2 separate regions of the Homo sapiens genome follow, and region 1 is linked to region 2. A link means that fine-mapping ties the variant in region 2 to the expression of a gene that starts in the linked region. Tissue or cell type: whole blood. Region 2 holds a variant in brackets; the other region holds the start of a gene. All regions are shown on one strand. Distances are from middle to middle.

Region 1 (8,089 bases), 230 kb after region 2:
CCTCCCCTTGGCCCTATGCCCAGATTGCATTTGGTCACCTGGACAGACTGTAGGGCTTAGACCTTGGCTTAGCTGGTTAGGATCACTTTCCCAGGGGGAGCATCCTTCCTGCTTTAGTCTCATTCTCTGAAGATAAATGGCAATATTAAGAAGCAGTGCCCAACCCCACCTCATCCCTACTGAGGCCCAGATATGATTGTGGGCAGAGAAGCCTCAGTAGGGATCCTGGCCATTTTGCAGATCTGTTCTTGAGGGCCTGCTGACAGCATTGAGCCTATCCTAAGAGTGGAATTCAGTCGAGGGCTTTACACTTACTATCTAGTCAGTTCTCCATCCAGCCCTATGCAGCAATTGCTATCCTCTCTCTCTCTTTTTTTTTTTTTTTTTTGAGACACAGAATCTCGCTATGTTGCCCAGGCTGGAGTACTGTGGCTATCCGTAGGTATGATTATAGCACACTACAGCCTTGAATGCCTGGGTTCCAGGGATTCTCTTGCCTCAGCCTCCTGAATTCTTGGGACTGCAGGCATGTGCCATCACACCTCGCTTGCTATTCTTTATCCCCAATTTTCGGACAGGAAATGGGCTTCTAGAATAAATGTAGTCAGACCTCCATTATCCATGCGTTCTACATCCATGGGTACAACCCGCTGTGGATCGAAAATGTAGTTAGGCCTAGGATGACTGTGTCTGTACTGGACATGTACAAACTTTTTTTCTTGTTGTTATTCCCTAAACAATGCAGTCTAACAACAACTTACATAGCATTTACATTGTATTAGGTATTACAGTAGTAATCCGGAGATGACTTAAAATATATGGAAGAATGTGCAGAGGTTAAATGCAGATACTGTGCCATTTTATATAAGAGACTTGATCTCAGCCACTGAAGTTGAGTTTAAAAAACAAAGTAAAAAAATATATGTAAAGGAGTTAAGTATTCATGGATTTTGGGATTCATGGGGATCCTGGAGCCAATCCCCTGTGGATACCAAGGGACAACTCTAATTTACTTCTCAAGACATCTAGCCGGGCACGGTGGCTCACACTTGTAATCCCAGCATTTTGGGAGGCTGATGTGAGGATCGCCTGAGCCCAGCATTTTGAGGCAAGCCTGGGCAACATAGCAAGACCCTGTCTCTAAAATAAAATGTGTGTGTGTATTTAGTGGGGAATGGTGGTGCATGCCTGTGGTTCCAGCTACTCGGGAGGCGGAGGTGGGAGGATCGCTTGAGCCCAGGAGGTTGAGGCTGCAGTGAGCTATGATTGTGCCACTGCACTCCGTCCTGGGTGACAGAGCAACACCCTGTCTCAAAAAAAAAAAAAAACTTACAGCTAGGGAGTAAAGGAGGCCCTGAGCAGCTTGATAGGTGCTGTGCAGCTGGCAGGGGGCGCCGTTGCCTACAGAAGGGGCTAAGCCCATCCTGAACCCCAACTCCTATTGCTCCCACTCAGCTCACTCTTAGGAGGGAGTGGCCTCGCCACCTAATGACCAAGAGGAGGTGCTGGATCTGGCTACCTAAGATCAGAGAGGTGAAGCCATCAGCCCCTATTGCCCAGAGCTTCTTCATCTGTGAGGGGGATAGTCATGGCAACCACTTGGGACTGCCCTTGGGAGATTTAAATGGGTCTAGGCCTAGCTCTGATGATCTAGGCACTGTATCCCGCACAGATGAGGAAGCTGAGGGCTCCAGAGAGGCAGAGTGAACAGCTGAGCCCCAGGGAGCCTTCCCGAGCTGAAGGCCTCACACCCTACGACGTGTGTACCTTCTGCCGGACAGTCCCTGTCTGAGGTGGCCATGGTGTCTGTGTTGAGCTGGGGATGAAGGGAGTCATGGGGGCGGCAGGTGTGATTGAGTCATTTGGCTGGCCTTCCTGGCAGCCAGGCCATGGTGGGTGAGGGACACCAAACTGCTCATGCCACAGCTGACATATCAGATAGTTCTCTTGTCACTCTTGACTCATCAGTGCCTGGCCCCTGGCTGCCTGCAGGGCCACCATCTGTGCATCCTGGGCCAGTGCCCAGGGAACTTTCTGGAACCCCAGATGCTATCTGAGGACACAAGGGTACAGGGGATGGTGAAGTTTGAGGTTCCTGAAACCCTCCACCAGGTATGTCTGGCTCTGCTGTTTCTGGCCTGTGACTCCTCAGGCTTTGGTTACCATGTCTACAAAATGGGAACAACAAATCATAGCTGAGTTTGACCCAGGGATTAGATGACATGTATGAACATGCCCGGCCATGTCTATTTTTGCTCATCATCCTGCCCCCAGCACAAGGGCCTGGCACACAGTAGGTATTTAGTACAGGACCGCGGAATGAATGAATGCATTGGGCCTTAGAACACAGCAGAGGCTCTGGGGCCTGAAGGCTGTGGTGTGAGGAGGGGGTGGGGACACTGAAGCCCAGCCCAGTTCCCTCTGCAGCATCTTGTCACCTGAGGGACGGGGAAGAGTGTGGGGTCCTACAGAGAGGAGACATGGGTATGGGGCTAGGGGAGAGGTATCTGCATTGTTCCTGAGACCTCTGCCCCACTCCTGGACAGACCACCATCCTGGAGAGAGTGGAGCAGAAACAGGAGAGGGACCACAAATTCACCTAACCTGCCCCATCCAACGAAGGATGATCATGATAAACGTGCTCTTAGTGAGATATTACTGTGTGCCCGACTTGAGCCAACTACTGTGCCTCTGCATTTCATGTTTGTTTTGTCTTATAATAACCATCAGGAAGAGGTGATCCCTGTTCTACACTGGAGAAACTGAGGCTCAGCCTAGATAAATGGACACAGGTGAAACAGCTAGCAAGGAGCACAGCTGGGATCTGAAGCCCGGGCGGACCTAGGAGTGGTTCTAGCCTCAGTTTATTCCTCCTGGGCAGCCATGCTCAGCCCAGAGAGCTGGGAGAACCAGGTGGTGGGAGTGGGGGTGTCTCAAGGTTGTGTCCTGGTGTTAATCCCTGGGGCCCCTGGCCATATCTAGCTTGTGGTGAGTGTCTCTGGCCTGTTGGAGCAGCCACTGGAATGCCTGGGGCTTGAGTGGCCCTTTGTGGTTGCAGTTCCCTTGGCAATGAAGAAACACTGCTGAGGTCAAGAGCTCAGATTGCCAGAGGGGAAACCCAGCCCTCCTTCTTTGCATGGCCCCCTGCTGGGAAGGGCCACAGCTACCCCCCACCCTCGCCCTCTGCCAGACACCCAGAGGAGGCTCTTTCCAGTGGCACAGTCATGGGGTTGGAGGGGGCACAGGCAGCCCAGCCAGGATTCCTCATGGGAAGTGTGTGGTGGCTCTTTAGACTTGCCTGCTAACGGGAGGCTCTGCCCATAACTTCCTCTTCCCACTGGAGTTCGTTCAGGAAGCCAGAACCAGCATGGGGATGCTCAGGCCTCCAAGATCCCCTAGGACCATGGGCAGGCCACCCCTCAGCCCAGCTTTTGCCTACTTTGAAGACCTCAAGGACAAGAGGGCCCTAATCTTACCGAGCCAGGCCCTCCTCAATCCAAGGCCTTCTTAGGCGTTGCCAAGGAAACTGATGCAGCAGCCAAAGAGCCTGGCCCAGGTCTCCATGACAACCTACCACAGCCCACCAGGGTCCATCCATCTGTGATGTCACCTGAGCCCCAAATGGATGCCCTCCCACCCCCACCACACTTGTCACAATCAGATGTCACAGTCTGATAGCAGGTCCCTGTCACAAAATACCTCACAGCCTGACCTGCAACCCTCAGACCCCTGAGAGATGAGCAGGGAGCTAAGACACTCCTCATGCCTTGACCACACCCTGTGTTTATGCCCCTTTTGGGTGGGGGCCTGAACCTCCAGGCCCTGGATGTGCCCTGGGTGGCTGGCTCAGCCTACAGCTAGAGGGAAGAAGGGAGACCTTGACGACTCGAAGTGGCTGGCTCCTGCTGGCATTCAACACCCATTGGCCTGGATTTCCCCAACTCTGGGCAACTTCCAGTCCAGGAGCAGAATAACCAGAGCCACGGCCAGGGCCAGGGCTGGGGCAGATTATTTATTTTTAGCAGAGTTGCTGGCAGCTGCCTGGTGGGTGCTGGGAGGTGGGATGGGGACTGAGTTTAATCCCTTCCCTCTTCTGGGCTGGGGTATCCTCCCCAGGGTTCAAGCAGGCATCTCCACCTGCAACTCTGTCAGAGCTGCCCCCACCCCCAACAGCCCTCTCAGGGCCCCCAGGGGCTCATGGGGTGACACCAACCCTCACACTGAAGGTTAGGCTCATTAGGGAGAATCTTCAACTCCAGGATGGGGAGTGGAAAGGATTTTGTGTGAATTTAGGACACCCCCTAAATTCTAGCTCAGACCTGAGCCTATGGGGAGTGGGTGTCATGGGCAGAGAAGGGGGATCTCTGTCCAGCCTGTAACTAGCTTACTTGCTAAAAGGACGAGCCGGGACTTGGGGAGAGGAAAGGGAGAATTCAGTCTCACGGGGCCAGACCGAATTCTTCTCCAGAGGGCAGTTGCTGCTTTTGGCTGATTGGGTTTACCCCGCTGCCTGCCTCCCCATCACGTACTCCCCCCGCAACCTCGCTCTCTCTCTCCTTCTCACACACACCCTCAGCTCCGGACCTCGCCTACCGGTCAGCCCCTCTATTCCCAGACAGCTACCGCTACTCCCCTGGCGGGTAGGGCGGGGTGTCGGGGATGTAAGGTCCGAGGAAGAGGGTGGGGGATTCCCCTGGTGGGGGTGGACAGACACGTCAGCCCCCGCAGCAGCGTGGACCGGGGGCGGGAGCGGGGGCGGGTGGAGGCTTAAATAGGCGGCTCTGGAGCCAGAGCCCAGTGCGGGCTGAGAAGGCGGTGGCTGCAGCAGCAGCGGCGGCGGAAACCCTAAAGTCCGAGTCCGGACTACGAGTGCGTGGCCTCCTAATCCGGATCCTAGTCCTGAGCGTGTCTGTGTGCGAGTGGGTGAGTGTCCTGGCGGAGCGGGGTCGGGGCGGCTGCAGATGGATGCGCCAGGTCCGGAGGGGTCCCGGGTGAGGGCGCCGCGACCTGGGGGCTGGGGGAGGGCTGCGGCGGGACCTCGGCCGGAGCATCCCGCCTGACTCCGGGTTGGGCAGGTGCGCCCCGGGTCCCGCCTCCCTCGCGGCTTACACGGCCACTCGGGTTCCTGATCCCCTAGACGGTCCCGGACGCGATGACCCTGAACGGCGGCGGCAGCGGAGCGGGCGGGAGCCGCGGTGGGGGCCAGGAGCGCGAGCGCCGTCGGGGCAGCACACCCTGGGGCCCCGCCCCGCCGCTGCACCGCCGCAGCATGCCGGTGGACGAGCGCGACCTGCAGGCGGCGCTGACCCCGGGTGCCCTGACGGCGGCCGCGGCCGGGACGGGGACCCAGGGTCCCAGGCTGGACTGGCCCGAGGACTCCGAGGACTCGCTCAGCTCAGGGGGCAGCGACTCAGACGAGAGCGTTTACAAGGTGCTGCTGCTGGGGGCGCCCGGCGTGGGCAAGAGCGCCCTGGCGCGCATCTTCGGCGGTGTGGAGGACGGGCCTGAAGCAGAGGCAGCAGGTGAGGGGACCCAGCTGTTCAGGGGAGGGGCGATCCCGGGGCTAGGACTAGGGGCTGAGACCGGTACTCAAAGCCGCAAATACCGTGGAATTATAGTTGTTGTTGTTGTTATTATTATTATTATTATTATTTTATTATTATTTTGAGACAGAGTTTCGCTCTTTTTCCCAGGCTGGAGTGCAGTGGCCTCGATCTAGGCTCACTGCAACCTCCGCCTTCAGGTTTCAAGGGATTCTCCTGCCTCAGCCTCCAGAGTAGCTAGGATTACAGGCGCCTGCTACCACGCCCGGCTAATATTTGTGTTTTTAGTAGAGTTGGGGTTTCACCATGTTGGCCAGGCTGGTCTGGAATTTCTGACCTCGTGATCCGCCCACCTTGGCTTCCCAAAGTGCTGGGATTACAGGCGTGAGCCACCGCACCTGGCCAATACTGTGGAATTCTATTGGCGCTTTCAGAATCATGCCTCTACCTACCCACTTCATAAATGGGGAAAGGAAAGGAGAAGGGACACCCCCCAGCCTTTGGTAGGGAAGAAATGCCCAGAGTAGAAGGCCAGGGCATAGATATGGCTACTCTGTGGGATGGGACTGGACATCCCTCCCTGCCTATCAGGGACAGGTCAGAGTTTCTAACCAGAGGGATTTCTAAGAGAGGAGCCCTAGGTGGCCAAGGTCCCCAGGGGGGGCATGTGGGTGGAGGTCAGGCACACCATGCCCTCCAGCCCCCACTTCCCTGCCTGGCACTGCTGTTGCCACATACCAGCATCTGCAAGTGGAGTGGAGGGTAAGGAGGGCTCTGGGGAAGAGTTGGAGGGTGTGGCCAGAACAGGAAACCTGGCAGCAGCGGCTTTGACAACCAGCTGGTAACCTGTCTACTGGCCTTCTGCCTAGGGCACACCTATGATCGCTCCATTGTAGTGGACGGAGAAGAGGCATCACTCATGGTCTACGACATTTGGGAGCAGGTAGGGTGCAAGCAGAGACCCAGGGCAGGGGAGGGAGGAGTGAGTTGGGTTAGAGGTCTGGGAGTGCCAGGCTCGTGTCGGGGGCATGAGGACTGTTGGGCAGATGTGTGTTGTGTGTTCTCCAGGACGGGGGCCGCTGGTTGCCCGGCCACTGCATGGCCATGGGGGATGCCTATGTCATTGTGTACTCAGTGACGGACAAGGGCAGCTTCGAGAAGGCCTCAGAACTGCGGGTCCAGCTGCGGCGTGCACGGCAAACAGATGATGTGCCCATCATCCTCGTGGGCAACAAGAGCGACCTGGTGCGCTCTCGTGAGGTCTCGGTGGATGGTGAGTAGGCGGCAGGTTGCAGGGGGAGGGAGAGCCCAGCTGGGCCCTGATCCAGGCAGTCTTGGCTCAGCTTGAGTCCCTGGGGATCATCAGAGGCTAAAAATGTTCAGAAAGAAAACTGGCGGGGAGGGAAATGGGAGAGAGCTGGTGCCTGCTCACAGGGCTCCGGAAGGCCCCAGAGGGCTGGGGAAAGAACCAAATCTGATAGGGGAGCTGGGCACCGCAGGGCCCTCCTCTCCTGCCCCTCTTGGTCCTGGCCTGGCTGGTTGGGGGGGTAAATGGGTGGAAGAGAGTGTAGGGGAACAGGCCAGGAGGTCAGAGCCTGTGTGCTAGGTCTGGGCCATTCTTAGAGTAGACTTGGCCCTGGGGAAGACCCTTCCCACTTGGCCTCAGCATCCTTTTCTGTGGACCCCAGTACTGAGCCCCTCAGAGGAACCCAGCAGTGACTTGGTGACCTTGCCTCCGCAACCCCAGTCCACTGGATCATTCATCATGATATAACCTCGAATTAAAAAATACTAAGTTGTGCGGGGCATGGGCCAGGGGGTGGCTAACGCCTGTAATCCCAGCACTTTGGGAGGCCGAGGCGGGTGGATCACGAGGTCAGGAGATCGAGACCATCCTGGCTAGCATGGTGAAACCCCATCTCTACTAAAAATACAAAAATTAGCCGGGCGTGGTGGCGGGCGCCTGTAGTCCCAGCTACTCGGGAGGCTGAGGCAGGAGAATGGCGTGAACCCGGGAGGCGGAGCTTTCAGTGAGCAGAGATTGTGCCACTGCACTCCAGCCTGGGAGACAGCGAGACTCTATCTCAGAAAAATAAAATAAAATAAAATAAAATACTAAGTTGTCCAACATAGTTCTCATTTTCCTGTGTTTACTACTGTCGTACTTTGTTTAAATATCAGGCTTCAAATTATTTCAATAAATGGATCTCCTTTTGAGGGCCACTGTTTTGGGGGCTCCTTAAATGCAGGCACTCTGCCTACTGGGTGACGCAGCAGTGCCCAGTACCCTCAGTACAGGAGCTGGGGTCTCTGTGTTTTCGGGGAGGACCTTGCAAATTCTCGAGTGGCAGCTTCCATGGGTGGCCACTGTTGGAGGGGACTCCTCATTCACCCACCCTTTGTTTACTGGTGCCTGCCTTTCCCCACCCACACAGAGGGCCGGGCCTGCGCGGTGGTCTTTGACTGCAAGTTCATTGAGACATCAGCGGCATTGCACCACAATGTCCAGGCGCTGTTTGAAGGTGTCGTGCGCCAGATACGCCTGC
Region 2 (8,100 bases):
GCCCACCATATATAAACCCTGATGAGAGTACAGGAGTGTGACTGATGGGGCAGGAGGTAGGGCCTTGAGCCCATGATTATAGGAAAAGGGTGGGTAGGAAAAGGGTGAGGTGGGGAGAAAGAGGAGGCAGTTTTCTACTTGCTGTCTCACGGGGTAGTAACTGGGAGACCATTGAGCTGTAGGTCAGTGCAGTGGTTCCTTGGCTGGGAATTTTGCCCCCGCTGGTCCAGAGCTAGGTTTTTGTCAGAAGATGGAGGAAGGAGATACTATACTAGCACCAAGGGGCCCTGGCTTTTTCTGGACAGGGAAGGAATAGAGCAATTTGTGTTGGAAATGACTGGAGCCGAACTCCAAGGGCTTTATAACAAAAAGGAATTATTTAGCTCACATAACTGAAAAGTCCAGTGTGCAATGGCTTCAGGGACGGCTGGATCCAGGGGCCTAGTATGCTTAGGAATGCACTTCTCCATCTCTTGACTCTTTCTTTCTGTGTCAGCTTCATTCCCAGCCAGGCTCTTCCCAAGCAGTGCTAAAGGAGAGCTACCTTTTCCTTCCAGTTCAGCCCCAAGGGAAGGGAAAGTAGTGCCTCTTTCCTATTGGCTCAACCAGAGTCGCAGCGTTGATTCTCATGGGTCCAACTTAAGTCCTATACCCCGCCCTGAACTAATCACTGCAGAAATGTGAATGGAATATGCAGATTGGCCAGGTCTGGTACACAAGCCCGACCTGGAACTAGGGAGTGGGACACAGGCACATGGATTGAGAAGAGGGAGGAGGGAAGTCCCCAAAGGTAAGTCAGGCTTGGGGAGAGAATCTGGGTAGATGCAAACTACAGGTGCCCTTCGAAGTGAAGACAGGAGGTTTAGTCTTAGGCTGAGGTCCTCCAGAAATGCTGGGCTCAAGTCTACTCAGAAGGCAAGGCCAGGATATGGGTCTGGTTGGCTTTGGGGCATGGGCACCATCCAGAATGAAGATGTCTCTTGTCCGCATTGGTAAGAGAGACACACAGGCCTGAGAAGGAAGCAGAGAAGCCCCATTGCAGGATCTGCCTCTGCTCCCCCTCCACTGTGACCTTGGGCTCTTTCTCCAAGAAGGCAGTGGAGGGACAGTCCTCACTGCAAGCCTGGGGCGGGTGGGACTCTGTACAGAGCCAGGAGCTCAAGGGGCTTCCTGTGAGATGGTGAACTCCTGTCCCAAGTATGCCAACCAGTGGTGGGGACAACTGAACCATGTGGGACTTGAGGCTACTGTGGTGGGGACAGCTGAACCACGTGGGGCTGGGTAGTTGTCTCCAGGGTGGAGGGAGGGGGGATGAACTGGATACCTGACTGTCTGCATCTCCAGGAGGTGAGATGGCAGCTGGGCAAAATGGGCACGAAGAGTGGGTGGGCAGCGCATACCTGTTTGTGGAGTCCTCGCTGGACAAGGTGGTCCTGTCGGATGCCTACGCGCACCCCCAGCAGAAGGTGGCAGTGTACAGGGCTCTGCAGGCTGCCTTGGCAGGTGCGTGGATGGGCGGGCATGTGGAGAGGAAGGGGTGGCCTGGAGCATTTTGTGGGTGGGCCTGGGTTTAGCCACCTTTAAGAAGAAGATTTGGGGTGGGAGGAGCAAGACGGAGGACCCCTGGCTGTGCAGACTCTCTTCTTTGCTTGTGGCATGACCTTGAGGATAGGCGTGTGTTCTCGAGTCTGTGTATGATTTACCAATTTGTGCACTAACGTCCTTTGCTCCATCCCCGCCCCCCTCCACCAGCCGGCTCACTCCTTTCTACTAATTGTGGATGTCTCTCTCCTCTTTTCCTCTCTTACTGCAGCACTCCTTGCTCAAGACCCCTCCCCAGTACCTACCCTTCCAGGCCCCCCTTTCCCATCTCAGGGCAGAGGCCACAGGAGGCTGAAGCGGGTTGGGGGATCTGTTCGTGGCCTCAGAGCGGCGAGAGCCCCTCTTCTTCCCGAGCAGTGGGAGTCGCGCTTGGTGGAGGCCGAAGACCTGAGACCTCTCGCCCTCCTCTGCCCTGCTGGCCGCCTACCCAGACGGCTTGTTTGCCCAGGGCACACGCCCCCTTTTCTGTGCTTCGAAGTCCCTCTCTTTTGCCAACCCTCATTTGGGGCGTGAGAGCGGGGGTTAGGTGGCACCCACTCTGTCTTAGGGTGCTCCCTGTGACAGATCCTGGTCTTCTTTCTGGGTTATTGCTGTTTGTATCCCAATTTTGCTTCCCAGCTGGGTACTCTGGGGTAACTGCACCCTAGGTCAGGGGATGGGACGCGGGGCTTCACCACGGGCTTCGCCCCTCCTCCGGCCGTTTGGAGAACGGCCGAGCTTGGGGACCGCCCGGCGCCTGACCGCCCGCCTCCGCAGAGAGCGGCGGGAGCCCGGACGTGCTGCAGATGCTGAAGATCCACCGCAGCGACCCGCAGCTGATCGTGCAGCTGCGATTCTGCGGGCGGCAGCCCTGTGGCCGCTTCCTCCGCGCCTACCGCGAGGGGGCGCTGCGCGCCGCGCTGCAGAGGAGCCTGGCGGCCGCGCTCGCCCAGCACTCGGTGCCGCTGCAACTGGAGCTGCGCGCCGGCGCCGAGCGGCTGGACGCTTTGCTGGCGGACGAGGAGCGCTGTTTGAGTTGCATCCTAGCCCAGCAGGTGCGGCCGGGCTAGGGTCAGGATGGGGTAGGGCGGGGATCCGCGGTTAAGTCCCCCGTGACGGCACGTTCCATTCCCCTAGCCCGACCGGCTCCGGGATGAAGAACTGGCTGAGCTGGAGGATGCGCTGCGAAATCTGAAGTGCGGCTCGGGGGCCCGGGGTGGCGACGGGGAGGTCGCTTCGGCCCCCTTGCAGCCCCCGGTGCCCTCTCTGTCGGAGGTGAAGCCGCCGCCGCCGCCGCCACCTGCCCAGACTTTTCTGTTCCAGGGTCAGCCTGTAGGTGAGGCGCAGGTGGAGAGGCGGGGTCACCAGGAGGTTGGAGTCTGGGGAGGGGCAGGGGTCGTTGCCGGGTGGGGATGGGTGGGACCGGCGCTGGGGGTCCCCGCCCTCACCCCGTTTCCCCACTCCCTCTGCAGTGAATCGGCCGCTGAGCCTGAAGGACCAACAGACGTTCGCGCGCTCTGTGGGTCTCAAATGGCGCAAGGTGGGGCGCTCACTGCAGCGAGGCTGCCGGGCGCTGCGGGACCCGGCGCTGGACTCGCTGGCCTACGAGTACGAGCGCGAGGGACTGTACGAGCAGGCCTTCCAGCTGCTGCGGCGCTTCGTGCAGGCCGAGGGCCGCCGCGCCACGCTGCAGCGCCTGGTGGAGGCACTCGAGGAGAACGAGCTCACCAGCCTGGCAGAGGACTTGCTGGGCCTGACCGATCCCAATGGCGGCCTGGCCTAGACCAGGGGTGCAGCCAGCTTTTGGAGAACCTGGATGGCCTTAGGGTTCCTTCTGCGGCTATTGCTGAACCCCTGTCCATCCACGGGACCCTGAAACTCCACTTGGCCTATCTGCTGGACCTGCTGGGGCAGAGTTGATTGCCTTCCCCAGGAGCCAGACCACTGGGGGTGCATCATTGGGGATTCTGCCTCAGGTACTTTGATAGAGTGTGGGGTGGGGGGGACCTGCTTTGGAGATCAGCCTCACCTTCTCCCATCCCAGAAGCGGGGCTTACAGCCAGCCCTTACAGTTTCACTCATGAAGCACCTTGATCTTTGGTGTCCTGGACTTCATCCTGGGTGCTGCAGATACTGCAGTGAAGTAAAACAGGAATCAATCTTGCCTGCCCCCAGCTCACACTCAGCGTGGGACCCCGAATGTTAAGCAATGATAATAAAGTATAACACGGATTTTGATGTGAGAAATACAAGTAGTAGTGGCTTACACCTGTAATCCCAACAATTTGGGAGACAGAGATAGGAGGATTGCTTGAGCTCAGGAGTTTGAGACCAGCCTGGGTAGTCCCAGCCACTTAGGAGGCTGAGGTGGGAGGATCCCTGGAGCATGGAAGGTTGAGGCTGCAGTGAGATGTCACTGAGCTACTGCACTCCAGCCTGGGTGACAGAGTGAGACCCTGTCTCAAAAAAAAAAAAAAAAAAAGAAAGAAAAAAAAAGAGAAGTTGTGGAGGATGGAGGAAGGGGCCTAACCTGGGCAGGGGACAGGGGGTAGGCTTCCTGGAGGAGATGAGTGTGAGTAGGCATAGGGGTGGGCTATCGAGAGAAGGGCAGTGTTCGGGGCACAGTCTCAGGCAAGGGCTTGAGGAAGGCTTGTGGGTTTTTCAATGAGGCCAGTAGGAAGCCTTTGAAGAGTTTCGGGAGTTAAGACTGGGAGGTGGTTGTTTTTTTTTTTTTTTTAATTTTAATTTTTTTTCAGATGGAGCTTCACTCTTATTTCCCAGGCTGTAGTGTAATGGCACGTTTTTGGCTCACTGCAACCTCCACCTCCTGGGTTCAAGCAATTCTCCTGTTTCAGCCTCCCAAGTAGCTGGGATTACAGGCGCCCACCACCATGCCCAGCTAATTTTGTATTTTTAGTAGAGATGGGGTTTCTCCATGTTGGTCAGGCTGGTCTCAAACTCCTGACCTCAGGTGATCCACCCACCTTGGTCTCCCAAAGTGCTGGGATTACAGGCATGTGCCACCGCACCTGGCCAAGACTGGGAGGTTGATGAGGATGGGGGTGGGGGAAATGGTGGCCCCAGGCTGGGGCAGTAGCAGCAGAGATGGAGGGAAGGGGATGA[C/A]CACCAAAGAGCTGTGTGGGTGGAAGAGTAACAGGCCTGGTGACACTGGGTGAGGAATGGCTGAGAGAGGGCCCCAAGTTTCTGCCTTTGCCAGTTGGATGGTGGGTGGGACTGCTTGCTGGGATGGGGCCCTGGGGGGAAATGAAATGCTTGCTCTGTTTGGGACAAGTTGAGCATGATGTTCCTGCAGTGCATCCGGGGAGAGAGTATGAGGGTAGTTGGGTCTGTAGTTCTGAGTTCAGGATGAGGGTTCAATCTAAAGATTGATGAATAGACAGGTGGGGAGTGGGTGGGGTGGCCCCAGGGGATGTCCTGAAGGACACCAACCAGAATGGGAACAGCCAAAGAGGAAGGAGGAAAACCAGGAGATTTGGAAACCAGGGGATTACCCACCCACTATAATGGAGCGGGTAGTCAAGACCGAGGAGTGTCTGTTGGACTCAGTTAAAAGGAGCTTACCAGTCAGGGGTCTTTCTGAGTCATGGTGGAGGCAGCCCGAAGCTTTATCACAGGAGGGAATGGAAGGTGAGGCCGCGGAGAAAGCTGGAGCAGAGGACTCCTGATTACTTTGTGACCAAAAAGAGTAAGGCTCAGGGTGGAGATTTGGCTTTTTTTTTTTTTTTTTTTTTTGGAGAGAGTCTCACTCTGTTGCCAGGTTGGAGTGCAGTGGCACGATCTCGGCTCATTGCAGCCTTCGTCTCCCGGGTTCAAGTGATTTTCCTGCCTCAGCCTCCCAAGTACCTGGGATTACAGGCACGTGCCACCATACCTGGCTAATTTTTGTATTTTTAATAGAGACAGGGTTTCTCCATGTTGGCCAGGCTGGTCTCAAACTCCTGGCCTCAAGTGATCCACCTGCCTTGGCCTCCCAAAGTGTTGGGATTACAGGAGTAAGCCACCACGACTGGCCTTTTTTTTTTTTTGAGACAGTCTCGCTCTGTTGCCCAGGATGGAGTGCAGTGGTGTGTTCTTGGCTCACTGCAACCTCCACCTTCCAGGTTCAAGCAATTCTCCTGCCTCAGCCCTCTAAGTAGCTGGGATTACAGGTGCCCACCACCATGTCTAGCTAATTTTTGTATTTTTAGTAGAGATGGGGGTTTCACCACGTTGGCCAGGCTGGTCTTGACTTCCTGACCTCAAGTGATCCACTCACCTCAGCCTCCCAAAGTGTTGAGGTTACAGGCATAAGCCACCACACCCAGCCAGAGAGGTGGCTTTTTAAGATTGAACATTGGTGGGAAGAAGCCGTCAGGAGCAGATATAGCCCTTGGACAGAGGATGGGGCTGGGTTCTTAAGAGACCAGTAGAGGCTGTCTATTCCAGGCTCCACCACATGGGCTGGGACCAAGAAAGAGAGAGCTGGCAGCTGAGCTGCGCAAGGACTTAGCTCTCCATTGCAGAGCACCTCTGTCCACCTGCATCCCAGAGCAATCCTTTAGCCAAGGCCTCCGCCAGGAGTCTTCCCAAGCTGTCCCCATCCTTGCCAGCCCTGTCTGACCTGCAGCTGCACAGGCCTGATCATTTCTACCTGCAGTAGGCTATGCTGGGGACCAGGGGACTCAGAACTGCACCTGGCTTGGGCTCAGGTCCATTAGCCCCCGGGGAGACAGGCTGAAGTGCTTGCCTGTGAAATTAAAGCAGACTGGGTTGGCCCCCTGTTCTGTATCCCAGTGGATGAATGAGCGGGGCAAGGACAGATAAAATAATCCTGGCCTGAATTTCAGAAGACCTGGGGGCAGAGCTTTCTGGCCTTTGGATCCTGGGCAAGTCACTTAACTCCCCGAAGAGCCCCCCAGTGTCCCCATCTGGGCATGAATGAGAGCTGCTGGCAGAGTTGCCCTGAGGATTGGGTGGGCTGCCTTGTTTGTCCCGTGCGTGTGTTTACTGGGGGTGGGGAGCATGGCAGAACCAGGAGTAAGAAGACAGCCATGTGTCTCGGGGGCAGCGTATGCACCCTGCCTGATGGAATCAGGGCTGCTGAGGAGAGGCCCGCCCGGGATGGTGGCCAGGTTCATGCGCATTTGGAACCGGCCTGCTCAGGGGCTCCTAGCAGCCCAGGCTCCGCCCCACTCCAGAGACGCGGGAGTGGGGAGTGGATAGTTGGGGGAGCTAACCAGGGGAGTTGATGCTTCTTCCCAATCCCCAGAAAGGCGAATTTGGGGTGTGAGCACCCAGACCAGCCCTTCCCAGAGGGACTGAGAGTGAGGAGGCTCCCTCTCAGGGATTAGTCCCCACTCTGAGGCCGGAGTGCTCCTGGCGCCGGGGCGGAGCTGAGCTCCAGAAGTCTGGGCGCGCACAGCTGGAGGGTCACGTGGCACGGCACCGGTCCCCCTTCCTGCCAACGCTGCATTTGGCTCGGGCCCGGTCCATGGCGGCCCCTCGGACCCTGCGCTGAGCCCCGGAGGCCAGGGCGTCCGGGGCTGCGCCACTTCCGAGGGCCGAGCGTGAGTGTCGGGACCCCAGGGCCCGACATTGAGGGGATGGCAGGGTGGAAGGGATTCGGCCTCAGCGCGAGGGAGGCGGGCGGGGGAGGGGCCGAGGCTCCCAGTCTCCCTGCCCGGCCCTGGGTCGCAGTCCTGGGCCGGAGCTGAGGCCGCGGGGGAGTTGGCTACATGGGTGAACTTCTTGTCCCTTCAGGCTGCCGGTCCCGGCGGTGCGACACGGCCGGGAGGAGGAGAACAACGCAAGGGGCTCAACCGTCGGTCGCTGGAGCCCCCCCCGGGGCGTGGCCTCCCGCCCCCTCAGCTGGGGAGGGCGGGGCTCGCTGCCCCCTGCTGCCGACTGCGACCCTTACAGGGGAGGGAGGGCGCAGGCCGCGCGGAGATGAGGAGGAGGCTGCGCCTACGCAGGGACGCATTGCTCACGCTGCTCCTTGGCGCCTCCCTGGGCCTCTTACTCTATGCGCAGCGCGACGGCGCGGCCCCGACGGCGAGCGCGCCGCGAGGGCGAGGGAGGGCGGCACCGAGGCCCACCCCCGGACCCCGCGCGTTCCAGTTACCCGACGCGGGTGCAGCCCCGCCGGCCTACGAAGGGGACACACCGGCGCCGCCCACGCCTACGGGACCCTTTGACTTCGCCCGCTATTTGCGCGCCAAGGACCAGCGGCGGTTTCCACTGCTCATTAACCAGCCGCACAAGTGCCGCGGCGACGGCGCACCCGGTGGCCGCCCGGACCTGCTTATTGCTGTCAAGTCGGTGGCAGAGGACTTCGAGCGGCGCCAAGCCGTGCGCCAGACGTGGGGCGCGGAGGGTCGCGTGCAGGGGGCGCTGGTGCGCCGCGTGTTCTTGCTGGGCGTGCCCAGGGGCGCAGGCTCGGGCGGGGCCGACGAAGTTGGGGAGGGCGCGCGAACCCACTGGCGCGCCCTGCTGCGGGCCGAGAGCCTTGCGTATGCGGAC

The links. PIP is the estimated chance that this variant, and not a neighbour inherited with it, causes the effect.
Region 1: RRAD starts here. The variant in region 2 is fine-mapped to the expression of RRAD in whole blood (TOPMed, PIP above 0.99).

Annotation. Positions count from the first base shown.
Region 1 is chr16:66,922,243-66,930,331 of GRCh38, reverse strand. RRAD (RRAD, Ras related glycolysis inhibitor and calcium channel regulator) reads left to right here and starts at 4,797. Exons shown (of 5, transcript NM_004165.3): 1 at 4,797-4,923; 2 at 5,138-5,522; 3 at 6,413-6,486; 4 at 6,612-6,816; 5 at 7,979-8,089. The coding sequence starts at 5,153. RefSeq lists enhancers at 2,091-2,260, 1,978-3,177, 7,643-8,089 and silencers at 4,803-4,862, 4,993-5,432.
Region 2 is chr16:67,149,913-67,158,012 of GRCh38, reverse strand. B3GNT9 (UDP-GlcNAc:betaGal beta-1,3-N-acetylglucosaminyltransferase 9) reads left to right here and starts at 7,015. Exons shown (of 2, transcript NM_033309.3): 1 at 7,015-7,148; 2 at 7,342-8,100. The coding sequence starts at 7,528. TRADD (TNFRSF1A associated via death domain) reads left to right here. Exons shown (of 5, transcript NM_003789.4): 2 at 1,345-1,503; 3 at 2,359-2,636; 4 at 2,719-2,917; 5 at 3,054-3,828. The coding sequence starts at 1,353. The coding sequence ends at 3,364. RefSeq lists silencers at 2,264-2,333, 2,374-2,563, 7,060-7,219, 7,230-7,659 and an enhancer at 1,496-2,397. The variant C/A (reference allele first, on the strand shown) is at 4,705.